3 linked regions of the Homo sapiens genome follow. The protein of the gene in region 1 purifies or fractionates together with the protein of each later gene. This does not show direct contact. Each region holds a gene or a part of one and is shown on either strand. Other genes may lie near its edges.

What was found.
Region 2: the proteins of CDH5 (region 1) and CTNND1 purify together in Homo sapiens (affinity purification with western blotting; 4 studies listed by BioGRID and IntAct, with this or other methods). This does not show direct contact.
Region 3: the proteins of CDH5 (region 1) and ARVCF purify together in Homo sapiens (affinity purification with mass spectrometry; 2 studies listed by BioGRID and IntAct, with this or other methods). This does not show direct contact.

Annotation. Positions count from the first base shown.
Region 1 is NC_000016.10:66,397,307-66,404,841, reverse strand, and holds the end of CDH5 (cadherin-5 preproprotein), read right to left. Parts: intron 6,861-7,535; coding exon 6,736-6,860; intron 6,387-6,735; coding exon 6,281-6,386; intron 4,072-6,280; coding exon 3,826-4,071; intron 2,191-3,825; coding exon 1,673-2,190; 3' UTR 58-1,672; downstream 1-57. UniProt on the Homo sapiens protein: Cadherins are calcium-dependent cell adhesion proteins. They preferentially interact with themselves in a homophilic manner in connecting cells; cadherins may thus contribute to the sorting of heterogeneous cell types.
Region 2 is NC_000011.10:57,792,318-57,799,852, reverse strand, and holds part of CTNND1 (catenin delta-1), read right to left. Parts: intron 5,844-7,535; coding exon 5,772-5,843; intron 4,277-5,771; coding exon 4,124-4,276; intron 3,397-4,123; coding exon 2,861-3,396; intron 1-2,860. UniProt on the Homo sapiens protein: Key regulator of cell-cell adhesion that associates with and regulates the cell adhesion properties of both C-, E- and N-cadherins, being critical for their surface stability.
Region 3 is NC_000022.11:19,978,773-19,986,307, reverse strand, and holds part of ARVCF (splicing regulator ARVCF), read left to right. Parts: exon of another isoform or gene 1-2,635; intron 2,636-4,216; coding exon 4,217-4,375; intron 4,376-4,570; coding exon 4,571-5,097; intron 5,098-6,065; coding exon 6,066-6,565; intron 6,566-6,615; exon of another isoform or gene 6,616-6,916; intron 6,917-7,227; coding exon 7,228-7,411; intron 7,412-7,535. UniProt on the Homo sapiens protein: Contributes to the regulation of alternative splicing of pre-mRNAs.

The DNA.
Region 1 (7,535 bases):
CCTGCCACCATGCCTGGCTAATTAATTTTTTTTTGGTAGAGATAGGGTCTCCCTATGTTGCCCAGGCTAAAGATTTTTCTTTATTTAGGTATAAAAAAATACAGTACTTGTCATGCACCAGTTTGGCCAATATATAGACATTATCTGTAGAGCAATTACTACAATTATAGAAAATAGAAGGTTACAGGAATTGTTTTTCCAACTAAAAAACCTGAATTAATATTGTTAACCTAAATAACAACCTGCTTATTATGCAAAAACCCTTATTCTATATGTCTGTGAGAGCTAGAAACTTGTAAGTATCATTAGTAAAAAAATCATTATAAGAAGCTAGTTATTGGTTAAAACAAACAAGTCAGTGTTATCTACAATCCCTTGCAGTGTGAGGGGCTTTGCCCAGAGTGGGAACCTCGGTCCATGACGAAGGGTGAGCTTGGTGTCTCCTTCCCTGCCCCTCTCTGTTGACTGATGCCACTTCTCCAAGGTGTGTTTGCAGTGAAACGTTCCAGTGGAAGATGCATGGGTGACCACAGAGGTTGGGCAGGGCAGGGCCTTGCCTTCTGCAAGGTGTGCCTGAGGGTCAGTTCCCTGAGATGTGACAACAGCGAGGTGTAAAGACACATGGCTCGGCTCCGTCATGCAGTCATGAGTGGGTTTGGACATTGTCCAGTTTTGCTAAAGGCCACATCTTGGGTTCCTCTAAACCAAGGGATAAGGAGTAGACAGAGAAAAGAAAGAGAGCATGGATTGGCGACCAGGTGAGGCAGAGAAGGGGAGACGTCTTCTGCTCCGGGAACATCTGCCCCTTCTCAGGCAAAACTGGAGGGGTGCTGAGGAGTCTCAAAGCAAGGTCTCAGCTCTTCCAGGCCTTCTCCAGAGGGGGTGGGTGTGGAGGTGGCCCTCACCCTGTGATCTGTCACTCCTGATCTCCACTGCCCCTCCAGAATGAATTCACAGTTGCTTCAAAGTTTAATAAGCCATTTCCCTGAATGTGGTTCAGTGCTCAGTACAGCACAGTTACTGGCATGGCAGGCCAGTGAGGTCACTTCAGGACCCAAGGTCAGGAGCTGCCATGGGGCCCCTTCCTCCCTCTTGACAGGCCTGGAGAGGGGTTGGGGAGTGGTGGGGCACTTGGAGTGGAGTATGGAGTTGGAGCAGGGCTAGGGCTCCCGAGAGAGGGCATGATGGTCAGTCTCCCTTGGGAATGGGCTGCAGAGAATCCTGCCCCACAAGTCAAGCTGTCCAGGCCTTTGCCTCCAGGCAGATAGGCACCAGGACCTCACCAGCCTTACCAGGGCGTTCAGGGACCCTAGAAAAAGACCCTGCAGCAGTTAAACACAGTCTGTTTTGCTTTGCAGCCTTGGGGAGCCAGAGGAAGTCTTTGAGTTAGACGGCGGTCTGTGGGTGACAGGGTTATGTGGATGTCTGAGCCCAGACAGAACACCAGCCTGGATTTGCCAGCATTTGAGAATAGTCATCACTGACATATATTCCTGGATATTTCAGGAACCTGGAGTTTGCTATCCCAAGGCTGATGAGGTCTCTGGGACCCACGAGGAAGGGGTGCTGGGCTGGGGAGTCACTGCCATTTTTGGAGGCTGTGGTGCCTGGCGTCTGACTGGCCTGGGCTGCAGGGGGTTTGGGTCCCCAGGCCCAGAGTGACCTCGGCCGCCTAATACAGCAGCTCCTCCCGGGGGTCCGAGCCGTACAGCTCAGCCAGCATCTTAAACCTGGGTCCCCAGTCGTTAAGGAAGTCGTAATCCACGTCAGAGTCGGATGAGTCGGTGCCCAGGGAGCTGAGGGACTCGGCTATGGACTCGGAGCCCTCGTAGCCGTAGATGTGCAGCGTGTCGTAGGGGGGGCCGTCGCCGTCGTGGTCCGCCTCGTCCTTCTTCACCTCGATCATGGCTGCCATCTCCCCGGGCCCTCCGTGTGCCCCAGGCGCGTGCCTCGGTGGCTTCTGCACCTGCGCATAGAGGGAAGGCCGGGCGTCCAGCGCGGGCCGCGGGGGCTTGGCCCCGCCGCGGCGCACCGAGTTGAGCACCGACACATCGTAGCTGGTGGTGTCCATCTCGCCGCCGCCCTCCTCGTCGTAGGTGACCAGCTGCTCGTGGATCTCCGGCACGCTCTTGCCGTGCGCGCGGGCCTGCTTCCGGAGCCGCCGCCGCAGGAAGATGAGCAGGGTGATCACTGCAGCCAGGGAGCCGAGCAGCAGAGTCAGACAAGGCTGGGGGCCTGGGCGGCCCCCCATGCCCCCATCCCCACTGCCCCCTGCAACCCCACCCCCACGCCCTCCCAGCATGCCCATCCCTTTGGCCCCCCCTTCCCCTGCAACCCCATCCTTTTGGCCCCCCTTCCCCTGCAACCCCATCCCCGCCGTTCCCCCATACCCCCATCCCCGCCATCCCCCTACACCCCACACCCCGTCCCTGCCGCTCCCCCGCATACTCATCCCCACCTCGCCCGACACTCCCACCGCTGCCGTTCCCCCACACCCAGGGGCAGGTGCGGATGCTCAGCCTGTGGGAATCTCTGAGGGGTGTGGCTATGTGAGGGTCTTGGATCCCTAAGGAGGGGTAGACCTTGAAGTGCAGAGAGCTTCTAAAATTAGGCTCAGGCCTTCTAGCTTTGAGTTACTGAACAAACTACTATATACATAAGTAAAGCTGGGATGCCCTGGAAGGCAGCCCTGCCCCCCAGCCTCAGTTTCCTTGTCTGTAAAATGGAAATGATGACCTCCCTGCTCTGTTTATATTTGGGAGGATGGTTGTGAGGTCAAATGCAATTCTATTTGTGGTGGGGATGCCATCATCATCATTAATTATTAATAAAGGAGAAATCTCTGCTGGAGAAGTCCCAGAAGTCGGGCATACCGAGGCCACTCTCAGGAGGGCTACAGGCAGGAGAGGCCTGGAATCTGTATTGCAGGTGCCCCGTGGCTGTATCCAGGCCTTGCCGTGAGTGCCAGGGTGATCTCTAATCACCTGAGGGCTTCCTCTGGAGGATCAGCCCCTGCTGCGTCTCATGGCGAGTGAAATGCAGGATACAGTACATCACTGTGCTCCCCCGGTGGGATGATGCTGGGGGGTGGCCCCACGCTGCCTCCCGGCAACCCTATGGGAGGAGGCTCCAGTTCCTCACGATGGGAACATTCCACCTTCGCTGGCCTCCTCCCTTCCCAGCTTCACTCCCCCTCTGCCTTAGGAGGTATCCAGGGAAATAAACCACCTCCCAAATAAACCACTTCCACCCCAATCCTCATCCCAGGGCTGCTCCCTGGGAAATCCAAACTAAGGCCTACAATGCTCCTAAAATTTCTGAGGCCCAAACAAGAAAAAAAATATGTATCAAGGCCGGAGGAATTCTATAAAAAGAAAGAAAGCACGTGGAGACAATCTAAACTAGAAGTTTTTAAACTTTCCATTTTAGAACTGGATCCTTTTTCCTTTTTCAAAAATAGGTTTTATGTAAATACATGCCCAGAACAATGCCTGGCACTCAGTAAATGCTGAAAATATCTAAGTGGAAGGAGTGACTGTTATGTATAAGTTATTTTAAAGTGATACTGGCCTGATGCGTGGGGGAGGAGTCCTGAGTCCCACCCCCTCCTCCTCCCTGGCTCATCCCCCACCGTGAGCACCCAGGTGGTTGGAGCTCACATCCTGCATCCTGCACATGAACTGGCTAAGGGCTGCATTGCAGATTGGAGGCAGGGTTGGGCCTGAACCTCTGGCCTCTACTTTTCCTGTGAAGCCTCCCCGCCTCCCAACACCTTCCATCCCCTTCCACCCACTGTGTCTTCTCCCCACCCTGCCCAGCACTGACCTGTGATGGTGAGGATGCAGAGTAAGATGGCTACCACTGCCTGGATGCTCACGCCCACCTGGGCGGCCATATCCTCGCAGAAGGTGAACTCGCCCTGCTCGTTGCACTTGCACACGGCCACGGTCAGCGTGCTGGTGCCCGTGCGACTTGGCATCCCATTGTCTGAGATGACCACGGGTAGGAAGTGGACCTTGGTATGCTCCCGGTCAAACTGCCCATACTTGACTGTGATGTTGGCCGTGTTATCTGGAAACACCAAGGCCTCGGAGTCAGGCTTTGCCATCTGCACAGATGGGGAAACCTGGCTCCTCCAGGAAGCCCTCCCTGACTGCACCAGCCTGCGTGCTCCCTGGGCTGCTTTTCTGCCCTTTGCACCCAGCGCCTCTTGTTTCAGCCATCTGAGTGCAGGTCTGTTCCGCCACAGAGGGGATATTTTGGGGCAGCTGCTTTGACCCAATCTCCAAGGATGCCTTGGTGAAAGAAGGTCAAATCCTTTGCTTTCTGTATTTGTGGGCAACTGATGCCTCTCCCCTTCCTCTTCCCTAACCCCACTCCAGTAACAGGAGGTTTTCTCTTTCAGCTCAATTAATTAATGCTCCGTTTCAAGCTTTGACAAGCAGCGGGGAAAAATAAAGTTTTAAAAAGTCTTTTAGCATTAGGCTAATTTCTAAGGCAGCTTCTGCTCTCTCTGAAAATCCATTGTTACATTGTTGAAAACAGTAAAAACAATGGACATGTCCCTTGGGGCACAGAGAAAATGATTACATATAGAATTGCGGGTTTCCCAGGCAGTTTGGAACTGGGAAATGCTTTTGTCCAAATATTGGCCCCGCCCACCTTCCCAGATCCAATCAGTGGTTTCCTGTACCCAAGAATCCCCCAGGGAGCTTTTAAAACATGCTGATTTTCAGACCCCTATGCTCACACACACTTCTTATTCAGTGGTTCTGGGCAGAGGCCAGATAATCTGCCTTTTGCAGGGTCCCAGGAGGTTGTAATGTCAACGATCAGAGAAGGATCCAGGAACTCCCTACTCCAGGATTTACTTAGCTACACAGGCTCCACACACTGGATTGAAAAACCCAGGAATCCATCTTTTCGATTTTGAATGAAAGCCAATTATATTTCATTATTCATAATTACATTTCAGCATTAAGTCTATTATATTTCAAAATAAACTATATGTCATTGACACTTATGGGAGAAACTAGAGATTTTGACATGCAGGATGTTCATGATATAAGTGAATTTGACACCAACAGACTTGCCTCCTATTGTATATGGGTGTCTTTGGGGTGGCACTGAATCTTTCTACTGTATTGCAGATCCCCACTCTGAGATGGGACTGAGGTGGACATTGGGGAGGGGGTGACATTTTTGCCACATTATTTACTTCTAATGACAACTGGGTGTTGAATGGTCTGTCATTGACTGTCAACACATCAGGGCCACCTTCTCCATCCCACAGGAGTCTCCTTAAGGACTGGTCTGTGGTTGATCCCTCAAGTCTGCCTCCAACTTTCAGGGACCCCACTCCCCAGTCTTCCTTAAATGTAGTAATGGGCTGCTGCAATACAGCCATCCTCATCCACCATAGTTTTGCCCATTAGGGACAGGCAGGAATTCCATCCCATGCTAGGTGAAGGATCACTCTATTTAAACCCAAGGGGAATTTTCTCTATTTTTTTGAGGAAATTTCAGAGGCCATGGAAGCTTGCCTACTTGTGGCTGGAATGAAGTCAACTCAGCATCATCACTTAAGTCAGCACCTACTCCTCAGAAGCTCTGATTGGCTGCTAATGCCATCACACGGGCCACCCTGCTAATCGTGAGTAATCGTTGTAGCTGAATTAAAACAAAGCTCACTGGATCCTTGGGATTTAGGATTTCACATTTCCAGTTTTGACTCTTTGGGAATGACCTCAAAGTTCCATGTTTAATGTGCAGTTTTGCTGACCCATAGAGCCTCCAGTATGGGAGGGGACTCCTTGGCTAGTTCTTGAACTGAGCTGACTGCCTGCATCCTCACATCTGTTCTGTACTCCTCGCTGGCTCCTTGCAGGCGACGTGGACTTGGGAGTTTGGATGGAGTGTCTCTGACCATTGCATAGACCAATTGTACAATGTATGTGGCAGAAATTGTACAAAATATCTAATGATTTGAAAATCCCAGTGGGAGCCTGCCCTCAATTTGTTGGCCTGGTCTTTGACCTTGGTGCCTCAAGACTCAAATAACCTCACCCCGACCCTGTTAGAGCCAACTGACTGCATTTGTTCTTTTTTTGGAGACGGGGTCTCGCTCTGTCGCCCGGGCTGGAGTGCAGTGATGTGATCATAGCTCACTGCAGCCTCAAACTCCTGGGCTCAAGCGATCTTCCTGCCTCAGCCTCCTGAGTAGCTGAGACTACAGGTGTGGGTCATCACGCCCAGCTGAACTGATTACTTTGATGCCTACCGTGATTATCCGTGAGGGTAAAGTTGTTCTCAGTATTCAAGATGAATTTGAACTTCACGTTTCGTGGTGTTATGTCCTTGTCTATTGCGGAGATCTGCAGGACCAGCTGGAGTGTGGAAGACAGGAGATGGTCAGTGATGGTGGTGGGGTGGTGGGGTGGTCTGAGGTTTAGCGATGGAGCCTTTGGGTTTAAGTCCTGACCATGGCTGTTTCCCACCTGCAACACTCACCTATTTAGTTCTTCATAAAGCCATTCTTTCTACTTCCCTGCCCCGCCAATCTACTCCCCATATATTCCCTCTGAGCCTCAGTTTCTCCATCTGTAAAATGGGCATAATGTTATTTTCCTCAAGGCTATTGTACAGGGGAACTCCTGCTGACTCTGTTGAGCAGTTCTGCCCCCCAGCCTGCCCCAGGGTGGTGCTGCCTTCCCCTCCCACCTGAACCAGACTCACCTGGCCATGGACAGCGTTCTCACACACTTTGGGCTGGTAGGGCTTGGCAAACTCCGGGGCATTGTCATTCTCATCCAAAACTTCAATGTGGACTTGCACAATGGATTCTTTTCCTGTGGGGGTTCCTGCAGGGGAGAAGACTGTCACCATTATGGGCTCAGCTGATGCTGGCCTTGGGCGGTGGAAGATGTGTGGAAGGAGGGCTGCCCTATGGAGGCCACTTTTTGCAGGAGGAGGCTGTGGAACAGAGGCCCAGGATGGTGTTCTGGATAAAAGGAGTTTGGTGGGGGGAGGTGTTAAATCTCATCCATAAGGTTTACTGAGGTATTACTTTGATTATGAGAATCAAAAAGGTAAACCACCTAAGTGCATTAAAAAAATTGTAATTAAATTCCTAAAATTAAAAATTTAATTATTTGATTAAATACATAAAACATAATAAATTAATCATAAAAGAATTGAAAAGGTAAACAACCTAAGTGAGATTGGGTCAGTAAACTAGGCTACCGGAAAAGACTGAAATGGATGGCCACTGACAATGCCTATGTCACTTACATCTTAAACATATAATTAAAAAAAATTTTAAGGCCAGGTGCTGTGGCTCACCCCTGTAATTTCATACTTTGAAAGGCCTAGAAGGGAGGATTGCTTGGGGCCCAGAGTTGGAGACAAGCCTGGGAAACATGGTGAGACCCCATCTCTACAAAAAAAATTAAGACATTTGCTGGGCAATGTGGTGCACGCCTGTAGTCCCAGCTGCTCAGGAGGCTGAGGTGGGAGGATCATTTGAACTCAGGAAT
Region 2 (7,535 bases), on another chromosome or scaffold:
GCACCAAAATGTTAACAGTGGTTCTTTATCAATAGATGGTAATGCTTTTCTGGGTTTTTCAGGCTCTGTATTGAACATGTTTAACCTCTATTATTAATATACAAAATTATAAGAACAATTACCATAACCAAAATTTCCAGATAACTCTATCCTATATCCTTTTCTATACAAAGGCAGTGGATTGGACATTCTTTCCTTTGTTTTACAAGAAACAAAGCTGTGCCTGGGAAGACCAAATGACTTGCTTGAGGCTACTTAGCTAGTGGCAAAGGCACAACTAGAACCAAGGTCTCAGGGTTCAGTGCTTTTTCCACTAATCACTGCCTCACTGTTTAAGTTTGACCTTGTATTACTCTTCTAGCCTGGAACAGGAAGCAGCAAATATGCTTGCTAGTCAAGCAGGTTTCCAAGTCCAGTGCTACCCTGGAACAAACCCAAGAACCAGGCCCAAAACTCTATGTGAACTAGCACAACTAGGGATGGCAGAGAATGACCTGGCCACCCACACCCATCTGGGTCCAATCACTCTTTACTAATGAGGAAGTCAGAAAAAGCAGACTTGCAGTAGAGCCAACACCCTGGACAGACTGCTTCAATGAAGGCTGTTATCTACCACTGCTCTAGGTTGCACCAGCCGAGGTCTGGTGCTCCTGTAGGAATAAAAATGAGTCACATGGGAGTTGGATTAGCTATCCAAGACACCTGAAAGGTGAGTGACTCAGTCTTAGATAATGGGGCCTCTACCCCTGGGCCCAGCCCTGTTCACTCTTAACCAAAGCTACCTAATATATGAGGAAAATGAGCACCAAGGCATTTGCTTTAAAAGGTCATGACCCCATATAGAGAAATTCAGCAACAGCTGCTAGGATATCCTTACCATCAAGACAACCATAAATCATCCCTTGTTTCTTATCATTTCTCTTTACCTGGAAAACACTGTTTCTAATTTATTCTGAAGCAGCATTGGCAGCCCATGGGCCAAACCTGTTTTTGTACATCCCCATAATGCTATTTTTAAAAGATTGTTTGAAAAAAAGAACAACATACGACAAAGATGATACATGGCCTGCAAAGCCTAAAATAGTTCTACGTGGTCATTTTCAGGGGTCTGTCGACCCCATTCTAAAGCATTCTCTCAATGCAACAAGGCAAACCATGTACCAGTCCAAACATCAATCACTCCTTTTTTCACATCACCAAAGAATCTCCAGGAACAAGTAGTAAAGTCAGAGTAGGCAGCTGCTTAGTGACCTTTCAGAGTGTTGCTAATGTATCCCCCGACCCCCACCCAAGGATGCCACCACAATTTCACTTTACAATCAAATAATAAGACCCTAAGCATAGAATGTCAAGGCCCTTGTGAGGTCAAAGTTTGTTTTTAACTTTGGGATTAAAAACACAAGAAAGTTCTTATACACGTCCTCAACTGTCTCTTTTGGTTCTGAATTCCTAAAACCCTCAACTATGTTTTGTTTTGGGGTTTTTTTGGCTTTTTTTTTTTTTTTTTTGAGACAGTCTCACTATGTCACCCAGGCTGGAGTGCAGTGGCGGGATCTCGGCTCACTACAGCCTCTGCCACCCGGGTTCAAGTGATTCTCCTGCCTCAGCCTCCTGAGTAGCTGAGACTACAGGCACGAGCCACAACACCCGGCTAATTTTTGTATTTTTAGTAGAGACAGGGTTTCACCGTGTTAGCCAGGATGATCTCGATCTCCTGACCTCGTGATCCGCCCAACTCGGCCTCCCAAAGTGCTGGGATTACAAGCGTGAGACACCGTGCCCAATGGACTCTGTTCTTAATACCAAATCAGAAACTAAAGAAATTCCCAGGAAGAAGTGAGCAAGAATTCCATGGCCCCAGACATCAGAATCCTCTGCCTAACACACCAAAAGGGGGTCACATCTTAGCCAGAAACAGCAAAAACTTCAGCATAGAAGCAGAAGCAAAGTTCATTCTTCAGGACACAGACTAATAACAATCACAAGTTGTTTTTTTTTTTTTTTTTTTTTGAGGTGGAGTTTCGCTCTTGTTGCCCAGGCTGGAGTGCAATGGCATGATCTTGGCTCACCACAACCTCTGCCTCCCGGGTTCATATGATTCTCCTGCCTCAGCCTCCCGAGTAGCTGAGATTACAGGCATGCACCACTACGCCCAGCTAATTTTGTATTTTTAGTAGAGGCGGGGTTTCTCCATGTTGGTCAGGCTGGTCTTGAACTCCGGACCTCAGGTGATCCACCCACCTCAGTCTCCAAAAGCGCTGGGATTACAGGCGTGAGCCACCGCGCCTGGCCCATATATTCAATTATAGAAAACAACTTGTGGACCAGGCGCGGTGGCTCACGCCTGTAATCCCAGCACTTTTGGAGGCCAAGGCGGGTGGATCACCAGAGGTCGGGAGTTTGAGACCAGCCTGGCCAACATGGTGAAACCCCATCTCTACTAAAAATATAAAAATTAGCCAGGCGTGATGGTGCTTGCCTGTAGTCCCAACTACTAGGGAGGCTGAGGCATGAGAATCACTTGAACCCAGGAGGCGGAGGTGGCAGTGAGCCAAGATGGCACCCCTGTACTCCAGCATGGGTGAAAGAGCAAGACTCTGTCTCAAAAAAATAAAAAATAAAATTATATTATTTTCATTTAAAAAATTATATATATATTTATATTATATATATATAGCAAGTCAATACTAAGCCAAGTCAGAAAAGGGAAAAACAGGGTAGCTTTTCACCCCAAAAAAAAGCAGAGGGGAGGAGGCCACGAGTATCTCTGATCCCAAAAAGCCCCTAGAAGTTGAAGGAAAAGCTACCCCTTGTCCCTGGTCTTGGAAAGACCCTTTTCTCTTCCCCTATTCTTGCCTACCTGAGGCGCCGACGAGGGTCAGAGGGTGTCCCAGTCCGACGGGCAGTGCCATAATCAGACATCATACCATAATCCAGGTCATCATAGCCCATACTACGCTGGTCATCCTCTAGCCCATAAGGCTCTGGATGAAAGCGATGCAGATCCACGCTGCTCCCACCTACCCGAACCTGGGGTTGGGGCCCATACACATCCTGTCTACTAGGTGCCCGGTAGCCTTCCATGCTGGGCCTATACCGCTCCTCAATGCGGGTCACCCGGGACAGACTGCCATAGTTATCACTGCCACCTGGATAACCATCTTCATAGTGGCGACTATAACCATCAGGAGGGTAGTGGAAGTTCCTAGGAAGGGTAGCAGTGCCAGCTTGCCCCACATAGGGACCAGGTCCCCCATTGCCATTCTTGCGGAAATCACGACCCAAAGTCTGGATATAGTTGTTAGAAACTGATGAAGCATCCACAGGCAACCCGTCTGGTCCCATAGCGACTGGCTGTACTGTCCGTGTTGTCACAGTCTTCACTACTTTCTTGACCTGCAAGTAGGAAACAAGAAAAAGAAAAACTAATTAAGGAAGTGAGCAATTAAATTCTTTTTTTTTTTTTGAGATGGAGTCTTGCACTGTTGCCCTGGCTGGAGTGCAATGGCGTGATCTCGGCTCACCTGCAACCTCTGCCTCCCAGGTTCACGCAATTCTCCTGCCTCAGCCTCCCGAGTAGCTGGTATTACAGGCACACACCACCACACCTGGCTAATTTTTTGTATTTTTAGTAGAGACGGGGTTTCACTATGTTGCCCAGACTGGTCTCAAACTCCTGACCTCGTGATCCGCCCACCTCAGCCTCCCACAGGGCTGGGATTACAAGCGTGACCCACCGCGCCCAGCCATGAACAATTAAATTCTATACCACTCCAAAAGAAACAAATCTTTATATCCCTAGGTCACTTTACCTAGGAATGCCTTAAAGCCTACCATCTATCTTTCTTTCCATCCTATAGGAAGTCCCCAAGCAGGAAAATTGCCCTGACAGTAACTATGCTTATAAGGGAAGCTACTATAGACCCTGATATACCTTCTGTCTTCCCTATCCCATAAGATTTTCCCATCTCTTCATCCTTTCTATCTGGCCAGAGATCACTTCATGCAATCAGATCAATAATGGCATATCAGTCCTCCATCTTAATTAAGTGCTTAACCCCTCCCCTAATAGAGAAGAAAAGACCTCTTATCACTTCCAGATCTTACACACGTCTTAGTTTACCGTGGTCTCTGTGCGCCGAGTGGTCCCATCATCTGAGGTCTCCACAGAGACTACAGACATGGCTCCCTCAGGATCCTCCTCCGTGTAGGTCTCCACAATCTGCCCCGGCTCCTGCATCCTGGGGATGGTGCTATATAGAAGGTGACTGTGATCCTATATGCAAAAGAGAAAAGAGAAGAAACTACTATTAAGTGCTATGTATAACAAGCCATCCTAATAAGAAGCATAAGTGGTAAACCTGGAGACAGGGACTCCTCATGCATCTTCTATAGGCCTCAGGATTTTTAGATGGGTGGCTGTCATCTTTTGAACTTGTACAAAAGGACAGTAGACATAATTTCCCAGTTGTAGTCATTTAACAAACATGAACTAACTATAGCCACATCAACATCCAAGTGACAGACAGTAGATTTAACTTCCCAGCTGTGGTCATCTAAGTGAACATGAACTGTGTTAAATGCAGTTTCATCTATATCTGAGTGATCCCTCAAAAGAGCAGCTCACCCAATAAATAAATAACTTGTATTTATTTACTTGAGATAGGGTCTCACTCTATCACCCAAGCTAGAGTGCAGTGGCATGATCATAGCTCACTGGAGCCCCAACCTCCCAGGCTCAAGCAATCTTGCCATTTCAGCCTCCTGAGTAGCTAGAACTACAGGCTCACGCCACCATGCCTGGCTAATTTTATTTTTTTTGTAGAGACAGGGTCTATGTTGCCCAGGCTGGTCTTGAACTCCTGGGCTCAAGCAATCCTCCAGCCTCAGCCTCCCAAAGTGCTGGAATTACAGGAATGAGCAAACCACGCCTGGCCAAAATAAAGAACTTTGTTTTTTTTTTTTTTTTGAGACGGAGTTTTGCTCTGCCTTGGCCTCCCAAAGTGTTGGATTACAGGCATGAGACACCGTGCCCAGTCTAAAATAAAGAACTTTTTTTTTTTTTTTGAGACAGAGTTTTGCTCTTGTTGCCCAGGCTGGAGTACAATGGCATGATCTCAGCTCACCACAATCTCCGCCACCTGGTTTCAAGCAATTCTCCTGCCTCAGCCTCCCGAGTAGCTGGGATTACAGGCATGTGCCACCACGCCTGACTAATTTTGTATTTTCAGTAGAGACGGGGTTTCTCCATGTTGGTCAGGCTGGTCTCCAACTCCCGACCTGAGGTGATCTGCCCACCTCAGCCTCCCAAAGTGCTGGGATTACAGGCATGAGCCACCATGCCTGGCCAAAAATAAAGAACTTTTAAGACAAACCTGAAAATCCCAGTAAGAGCCATCTTTTGACTGGCTTTATGTTACTCTTCAGATACCGTCTAAAAGGCTCAAGACCAGCCAGATTTTAGGTAGGGTTTTTTGCTGCAAAGTAGAAGCCTACTGTCTCTAGAAAAGAAACGCAGTACTTAGGGATCAAATGGGGTGGCAGTGGGGAGGAGGAATAGTCATAAAGATCAATGGTCATTAAAATTCATTCCAAAACAAAACTGCATATATACTTTGGAGCTCCACTTCTTTGTTTTCGTAAATAAAAGAAACTAATTGACGAGTATGTACAATGTGCCAGGCACCTTACAAGACACAAATATGCTCTTATAGGCTGGGGAAATAAGAAAATATGAATGAAGCAACCCAGGTCTTGAGCCAAAGAATTACCTGGGGTCCGTTGAGTTTCAAATCTGAAAATTTCTGTCTTTCAAGGTCAGCATCGCCCACAAACCGGCCGTTCTGAAACACAGCCCACAAGAAGACAATTCATTTTGTGGCCTTCTTTTGCTCTATCAAATACAAACGATCTTTTTTTCAAACAGGAAAAGGGCTTTCAAGAAGATATGTGTGGCCTGGAGTCCTTGTGTCAGTACTCATAAAAGAACCATTCACTCTTTAGTCTTAGCACTTTCCTCAAAATTGAAAATCAGGCCTGGAACTCTGGCAGACAGGGTCTCTGGAACATAAGAACGTAAACTCCACGAGGGCAGAGGGTTTTTTGGGATAAGTTTAGTTTAGTCTAGTGCCTTGAACAGTGCCTGGCACATAACAGGTGCTCAAAAACTATTTGCTGAATAAACAGCACAGACCTAGATAATTTCCCTTACATGCAACCTTTTTGGAAAGCCATAAAAATGTAAGGAAAGTTGGAAGGGCTAAGTTGGGGGGTTTCCAAAGAGCTTTATAGTCTCATGAATCTTCATGCAGTACTACCACTGGAAACTCCCATTCCAGGCAGCTTTTTAAAGAAAGAAGCAAGATGGCTATCATGTCCTAATGTAAAAAACAGAAATTTAATTAAAGAAAAAAGCAAGAGATACGAGTCTCCCTTTCCAAGTACAAAAACAAGCACCCCAACTCCCCTCAAGAAAACAGAAGGCTCAATATCTTTACCAACAATTATTAGAGCCACAGAATACATTCCAAAATGTCATCCAGAAGTTGCTCTGTCTTAAGCAGCAGGAAATAATCTAATGACATTATACCACATAAAAATATATTTGCCTGCTCCTCTTCCAGTAGAATAGTGAGATCCAACCACCTTGGGAGACTCTTCCTCCACCCCACTCCCATTACATAGAGTGTAATGCTGCAGGGAGAGGAAGTTAAACATTACTTTCAGGAAGAAGGAAGGGTGTGGTTTTACTGCTAAGCAGAAGTTAAAAATAAGAGAGCAACCACATACTGAATCCTGGAATTCCCCATGACCTCCAAACCTGAGCAGTCCAGCTTTCTCCTTTCAATATAATTTCATCCCTAACTTTCTATTGTAGTTCCTGTAAAAATCCTAGGAACACTGCAAGCATGCTGCCTCCCTCAAATTCCTTGATCCTCCAACTGGAATTCTGTTCTCTCTCAACTGCAAGGCTCCTCAGTATGAGGGACTTTCTCTATCTTAAAAAAAAAAAAAAAAAAATCACTCAGCCGGGTGCAGTAGCTCACGCGTAATCCCAGTACTTTGGGAGGCCGAGGCAGGTGGATCACGAGGTCAAGAGATCGAGACCATCCTGGCCAACATGGTGAAACCCCATTTCTACTAAAACTACAAAAATTGGCTGGGTGTGGTGGCACACGCCTGTAGTCCCAGCTACTCAGGAGGCTGAGGCAGGAGAATTGCTTGAACCCGGGAGGCGAACGTTGCAGTGAGCCAAGATTGCACCACTGCACTCCTATTTAAATAAATAAATAAAAATTACTCAATGAAAAGGACTATCAGGGCATGAGTACTGTTCTGGTTCCCACTCAGAGATCTCTCGTAAGATGCAATCTATCAGGCAATGTCTACCACACACACACATGCGCGAGTGCGCGCGCACACACGCACACACACACAGAGGAAGACAGACAAAACCTCAGACAGATTACATCACAGCAAAGTCAGACTAGAAAAACCAGAGGAAACACAAGATACTTCTCATTTCTAACACCAAC
Region 3 (7,535 bases), on another chromosome or scaffold:
CACACCTGCTACCTGGGCAACTAGGCCCCTGCCTGTCCTACGGCCCTGGTGTGGCCCCCAGGGTCTGGCCCTCAGAGGTGGAGGGACCAGTTTTTGGGAAATCCATGGTCACAGTGTGTCTGATGACCCCAAGCTGAGCTTGGGGAAGCTGAGGTGGATGACAGTCAGCCCTGCTCTCCCACCCCAAGTTTGCTCCCCCAGCTTGGCTTTTTGGCATCTCTGCCTGGGGCCACGCCCTGGCAGGTGCACTGCTGTGTGGAGAAGTAAGCTCCAGGTCTTGGAGACTGGTCAGAGGCTGTGGCACCAAGGGAAAGGGCATTTTGTGGTGGCCAAGGGCTTGCTGCCTGGTGAGAGATGCCAGCCTGGCTTGTCCTGGACTCTACCTGGGAGGGCCATAATGGGGATGGAGAAGATTCATTCATTCATCCATCGGACAGCAGCCACCTCCTGCCCTCTGGGAGCCTGGCCTGCAGGTGTGGGATCCAGGTGTGCAATCTCACCTTAACTCATTCTCTGTGTGTGCTAGCCAGGCCTTGGACAGGGGAGGGGCCTGCCCCTGCAGTCTGTTCTTCAGGACACAGACCGTGGTGCATCTGTGAAGTCCGGTGGTTTGGGTAGATAAGTAATATGGGACCAGGGCCCAGCCACCTGTGCCCCAGCATCCCTCTGTGTGTTGGTCCAATCTTGCTTTTCTGCTCCCTGTGTTCCTTGCATTTTGCCACAAAAGTGAGACTGATGCTACCCAGCACGTCCCACGACCCCAGCCCCCTCTGTCCTTCTCACCTCCTTGTGAAGAAGCTGAGCCGAAGGTGCGTGATGGGGCCCAGAGCCCCTATGCTGGGCTCAGCCCTGTGTTCCCGGGACCCTCTTGTGAGCAGGGGTAGGTGGTCTACCTCCCTGGTCACTCTGGCCCCTCCCACAAGCCCAAGGGAGCTCATGGGAAACCCCAGGCCTGGGCAGCAGCCTGTTTCTGGGCCAGTCCTGGGGGCCCCAGACCTGGTGCACCAGAGATTGAAGAGCCAAGGGAGGGATGAGTGCTGGGAGGCCGGGCGGGGTGCAAGAGGAGCAAGGATGGGGCCCCAGCTGGGGAGGGGGTGATGAGAGACGACTGACAGGATGCAGCATGTGGGATTGGGCTGGAGGTGGGGTGTTCAGGGTAGAGCCCATGTCTAGGGTACAGAGGGGAGCAGCCCAGAGTTGGGTCTGAGGCAGAGGCTGTGTGGGGCTGCAGGGCCAGGGTCCCTGAGAGTGGGCCAGCCTGGGCAGGTGCACGTCAGACATGGACACTGGGGCCAGACAGGGATCCAGGGACTGCAGCCAACTCCTGTTGAGAGTCAGCCCACCATTCCACAGCCCCACCCTAAAGATGTTGCAGAGAGCTGAGCCACCAGCTGGCTATGGGCCTCTCACTACTCTACACCTCAGTTTCTCCATCTGCCAGCCAGCTCTGAGACTCCCAGAGTGGATGCTGGGCAGATGATTGGCAGAGTTGGTGGCCCCTGTCCCTGTGTGTTGAGACTCTGTGAGGCCCTGCATGGATAAGGGTCTCCGATACACGGTGGAGGACGGGAGGATGTGTGCTCACGAGTGTGCCTCTGGGAACAGTGGGCGCCGTGCCCTTGGGGTGCTGTTAGAGCACACGGGTTGATGTGCTCGGCCTGTGCCGGGCTGGGTACTTGCACACGTGTATGTACATGCATGTGTCCCTGTCTGAGGGGTCATGTATATGCATGTGTGTGTGCCTGGGCATGTGTAGCAGGGGCCGGGCTTTCCTGTGATCACTGGCTGACTCATGCACCTGCCACCCGGGTGAAGTCATCCCTCGTTTTTAGCTCCCTGAGGTCATTTGCCAGCAGGGACTCTTGGGGCCTCTGGATCCTACTGCGGGGCTGCTAGGCCGGGGCTGATGGGTGGTGCCGCAGGGTTGCCAGGTCTTGCTGCGGGGGCGTGGCTCTCCTGGACCACCCCAGCTCTGCCTGTCAGACCCTCACCACAGCCTTGGTGGGAGGGATAAGCTGGGCCACAGAGTGGCATCGGGGTCCTGAGATGTCCTCCCCTTTTCCTCTCCCGCTTACCCCCACTGCCTAGCTAGGGAAGAGGGGGTTTTTCTCTGAGTTTTTAATAGATGTAAATATATACATATATGAGGGGCTACATCCCACTGGCAGAGTCCTGGGTAACGTTTCCTCAGTCTTGCTTTATACCCTCCTCACTCTGTCGCCAGAACTGCAGCCCCTCAGTGCCTGGGCCCCTGCTTGAACTCAGATGAGCCCCGCCCAGGGCCCAGCAGAGAGAGCTCAGGGCCTGACACACATTTGCCAGATACAGATGGGGCAGCCCAGCCCCAGCAGTGATGGGCCACACAAGCCTTCTCCTGCTTCAGAGCAGTCCCAGCTCCCCAGTGCCTTTGGAGAAGAGCCCAGCCTGCCCTGCCTGGCAGCGTGCCAGTTGTCCCCACTCTAGGCCTCAGTCTATTTCTTTTTCCCAGGGAACAGGTCCCCTTTTCCTAGCCAGGTCCACAGCAGGCATTCCACCTACATCTCAAGACTGAGGGCGAGATGAGGCCCAAAGCCTTCCTTGCCAGATTGCCTTCTCTGGGGGTGCTTGAAATCCCACTTGGACTGTGAAGTTCTAGGTAAATCCTCTTCCCCCTGCCAGGCCTCAGTTTCCCCATCTATAAAGTTATCTGTCATCCTCCAAGACCCTGCCTGTGGGAGAGGGGGAGGTGCCTTCTGTGGCCACTTCTTTCCTCTGTCAGCCTGAGGGATACACCTGTCCTAACATGTTGGTGCAGGCCCCTTCCTGGACACCTGCACTGCATGCATTTGGGGGTCAAGTATTCCCCCAGGATAGGACCCTGACCTGGGGAGGCTTCCCAGCCCACGAGCCTTGGCAGGCAGGTCCTGAGGGCAGCGCTGAGCATCTAACCTGGCTCACCTCCCAGGCCCAAGAATGGGCAGAGTCTGCCTCTGGAGCCTGGCAGAGCTTAGTGTCTGTGCAGGCCCCAGGGGGCCCAGGCAAGGGACCCATTGTGCAGGGACCAGGGGCCTGGGCCACAAAGCAGGACCTGTCCTCCTGCTGACCCTGCCCTGGCTGCCTGGGAATGTGCTCCGCCTGACCCACCCACCAGGGCTTGGGTTTCAGCTCCTGCCCATCCTGGCTAGATGCCGATCCCCGGATGTTGGTGCCATGTGGCCCTGGGGCCAGGCACCTGTGCAGTCAGAGGCCCGGGGCAGGCTGTGAGTCTTAGGTCCTCAAGCCACTCAGCGCGGCAGGGGTTGGGCCTGGCTCTGATGTGGGCCAGCCTATCCTCTTTGAGCCTCAGTTTCCCCACTGGCAAGTCCAGTCAGTAGGCATGTGGATAGAAAAGTCTCAGTCCAGAGTTGTCTTGCCTAGAATTCCAGTGTCGTCACCCCATGCAGAATGGTGGCAAGGGCACCCATAGGCTCAAATCTACTGTGTCTGGTCTCTGATATGATGCCCAGAGTCTCAGTCACTGGGGGCGCCAGCCACTGGCCCGAGGTAGGGCAAACCTGTGCCTACACAACACTCAAGAATGTCTGGGCTGGAAGGAATAAGGACATACTGGTGCTGCAGGTGCATGGGGTGTTCTGGGAACTGCGTATTTCTGTCCCTTGAGGGCGTCTGGCTGGCGTTGGTGGCGGGAACCTTAGTGTGGCCACAGGAGTCAGTAGGCAGTGCTGAAACAGCCCCCACAAGGCTTCTATACTCAAGGTGTCTGGGGCAGGTGAGGGAGGAGGCCCCAGGACACCATGATGTCCCAGCTAGGGGTGGTGGTTGACATCAGGAAGGCATGCTGCAGGTCTCACTGGCACCTCCTGGGGCCTGGAGGAGCCTGTGGCAGCCAGGCCATGCAGCTTGGGGAGGGCCCTGAAGACTTCACCCCCCAGGGTCTATGTCCTTATCTGCCAACTCAGCCTGAGGAGACCTGAGATGGGGGTCCAGCCCCAGGGTCCCCCCAGGATGGGGTGCCGGGGCAGGGTTAGCACCTCGATGTTCAGAGGGCAAGAACTTATTGCTGTCCTTGTCAGCTTGGGCCGAAACAGGCCTTGGGGTGGGTGGGTTCAGGACCAGGAGGAAGGCACCCTGGTGTGCTGGCCAGCATGAGCTGAGGCAGAGCTGCTGTGTGTGGAGACCTGCACTCCAGGGGTGACTGAGCAGCAGGCCTGCCCACCAATGTCCCTCCTTGCCCCAGGAGCAGAGCCCAGGCAGCCAGGCCTCACTGGCCACGATGCCGGAGGCACCTGATGTGCTGGAGGAGACCGTGACGGTGGAGGAGGACCCCGGCACACCCACTTCCCATGTGTCTATTGTCACATCCGAAGATGGCACAACCCGGCGCACCGAGACCAAGGTATGGCCAGGCCCAGGCAGTGGGTGGGTGAGCAGGGCCAGGCTGCTGCAGCTGTCCCACCTGCAGAGTGGACATGGAAGCTTGCCACGTGGGGCCTCTCATTGCTCGAGTGGGAAATTAAGGCCAGCCAGACCCCAGCAAAGCAGTTTCTAGGCCTCTCGTGCTACCCCACCTACCTGCCTATCCATCCACCAGGTCACCAAGACTGTCAAGACGGTGACCACTCGGACAGTACGCCAGGTGCCCGTGGGCCCAGATGGACTCCCCCTGCTGGATGGCGGCCCCCCACTAGGCCCTTTTGCAGATGGTGCCCTGGACCGGCATTTCCTGCTGCGTGGTGGTGGCCCAGTGGCCACACTCTCTCGAGCCTACCTCAGCAGTGGGGGTGGCTTTCCCGAAGGCCCCGAGCCCCGGGACAGCCCCAGCTATGGCAGCCTGTCCCGAGGGCTGGGCATGCGGCCCCCACGTGCTGGCCCCCTTGGCCCAGGCCCTGGTGATGGCTGCTTCACACTGCCTGGCCACCGGGAAGCCTTCCCGGTGGGTCCTGAGCCTGGGCCACCAGGTGGCCGCTCCCTGCCCGAGCGCTTCCAGGCAGAGCCGTATGGCTTGGAGGATGACACGCGCAGCCTGGCCGCTGATGACGAGGGTGGCCCTGAGCTGGAGCCTGACTATGGCACGGCCACAAGGAGGAGGCCTGAGTGTGGGCGGGGCCTTCATACCAGGTGAGCTGCACCCCGTCCCCTGTGGCTACCTCCTCTGGGAAGTCTGCCCTCCACCCCCCAACTACAGAGTGCCCCACTTGTCAAGTGGCGCAGTTGAGTTAGTCATGCATGTTAGTTTGAATTGGCCTTGGCTCTCGTCAGGGACAGAAGAAAGGTGGACCCTGGGGTGGTAGGAGTTCGGCTGGGCACTGTCCTGCAGGCCCAGGGCCCAGGAAAGCTGGGAAGAGTGCCGGCCACTGGCCTTGCTCCAGCCACACTCTGGGTAACCAGAACCCAGAGCCCTGGCCCTTGTCACAGCCCCTGGTTCTGTCCCCATTGCCCTCAGTTTCTGCATCTCTGGAGTGGGGATGTGACCACAGCCCGGGTCAGGATTTTGTTGTGTGACCCTGGCCAAGTCACCTGACCGTCACTCCTAGCCTCAGGGCAGGCGGTTTGATGACAGCAACCCACAGGGCTACTGAGAGCTAAGGAGATCTTGTGCCCCAAGGGGCTGGTGGCCTGAATACTCCTCAGGTGGTCCTACTGGGATGGCTTCATGCGGAGAGGGCCATTTACTCCCCCTACATCCTGGCACAGCCAGAGATGGGCCTCATGGAAGATGGGGTGGTTTTGTGGAAGGGAGGTGAGACGGTCTCTCCAGCAGCCATAGCAGATGTCTCACAGAAACTTGTTTTGCTCGGGATTGGGAAACTGCCCGGTGACAGCAGTGAGTGAGTTTGCTGTCCTGGGAGGGTTGCCTGGGTCCTGGTAGCCGCTGGCTGGGGTTTGGCATTTGGCTCTGAATTGGTTCTCACTGGGCTGGTGCATGACTCTCTGTGTCCCCACCATGCTCCGGGCCAAGATACAGGTGCTCTCAGCCCAGCGCTGCTGGGTGAGTTTGCAGTCCTGAAGAAGGTGTGATGGGGCAGCTCAGAGGCAGGGCTGGCGGCTGCTGTGACGATGTCCACGCGCCCCACTTGCCTGTGCAGGGCCTACGAGGACACAGCAGATGATGGCGGCGAGCTGGCGGACGAGCGGCCTGCGTTCCCAATGGTGACGGCGCCCCTGGCCCAGCCTGAACGGGGCAGCATGGGCAGCCTGGACCGGCTGGTGCGGCGCTCGCCCTCAGTGGATAGCGCCCGCAAGGAGCCGCGCTGGCGGGACCCTGAGCTGCCTGAGGTGCTGGCCATGCTGCGGCACCCCGTGGACCCCGTGAAGGCCAATGCGGCCGCCTACCTGCAGCATCTGTGCTTTGAGAACGAGGGTGTCAAGCGGCGTGTACGGCAGTTGCGGGGGCTGCCGCTGCTTGTGGCACTGCTGGACCACCCGCGGGCTGAGGTGCGGCGCCGGGCCTGTGGGGCACTGCGCAACCTCTCCTATGGCCGCGACACTGACAACAAGGCCGCCATCCGGGACTGCGGTGGTGTGCCTGCCCTGGTGCGCCTGCTGAGGGCTGCCCGGGACAACGAGGTCCGTGAGCTTGTCACTGGTGAGTGGGACCTGGCCATGCTCACATCCCCTGGGAAGAGAAGAGTGTGAGGCTCAACCCGGGAGGAACGAGGCCACTCGGCCTGCGACCGCCTGGGAAAGCACCCGGTAGGCAGGAGTGCAGCTGCTGAGACGCTTGCCCCAGGAGCCAGGCATCAGGCCCAGACACTGTGACAGGTTCCCCAGTCTCTACCATAGCAGGGAGGCTGACGCTGCGCCCCTCGGGCATGTCCCCTCACCTCCTGCCTTCACACCTCCTGCCCCCACAGAAACTCTCCTGGGACCCACCTCCTTGGTTCCCACCCCAACCGTGCAGTGGTGGGGCTTGTGCCTTGTGAGAGCTGAGGGACAGGTAGGGTCACCGTGTCTCTGTGAGGCCCTGTGGCCTCAGGAGTGTTAGTGCCACCTGCCACATGGCAGGGAATGGGTGGGACGGGACAGCACTGCCACACCCTCCTCTGCACCTCCTCCCCTTTGGGGCTCCTTCCTAGCTGGAAACCAGTACTGGGTGTCCCCCGGAACCACTCACGGCTTTTGTTACTTCCTACTGTTCTGCATGAGCTGGGACATGAGGAGAGTGGGACAGGTCCTGAGCGTGGCCACCTGGGGAGGTAGGCAGGCGGTGCATATGGTCAGCACAGATTGGCCAATCGCACCCCACAGGCACCCTGTGGAACCTGTCATCCTATGAGCCCCTGAAGATGGTCATCATTGACCATGGCCTGCAGACGCTGACCCACGAGGTGATCGTGCCCCACTCAGGATGGGAGCGTGAGCCCAACGAGGACTCCAAGCCACGGGACGCCGAGTGGACAACTGTCTTCAAGAACACGTCGGGCTGCCTGAGGTGTGGACCAGACCTGGTGCTAAAGCCCACATGCACACCAGGCCCCGTCCTCGTGGTCCCAGATAGTGTGGAAGATGGCGGCGAGCTTAGGAGCGCCAGAGCTTAGGAGCTTCAGAGCTGTGGC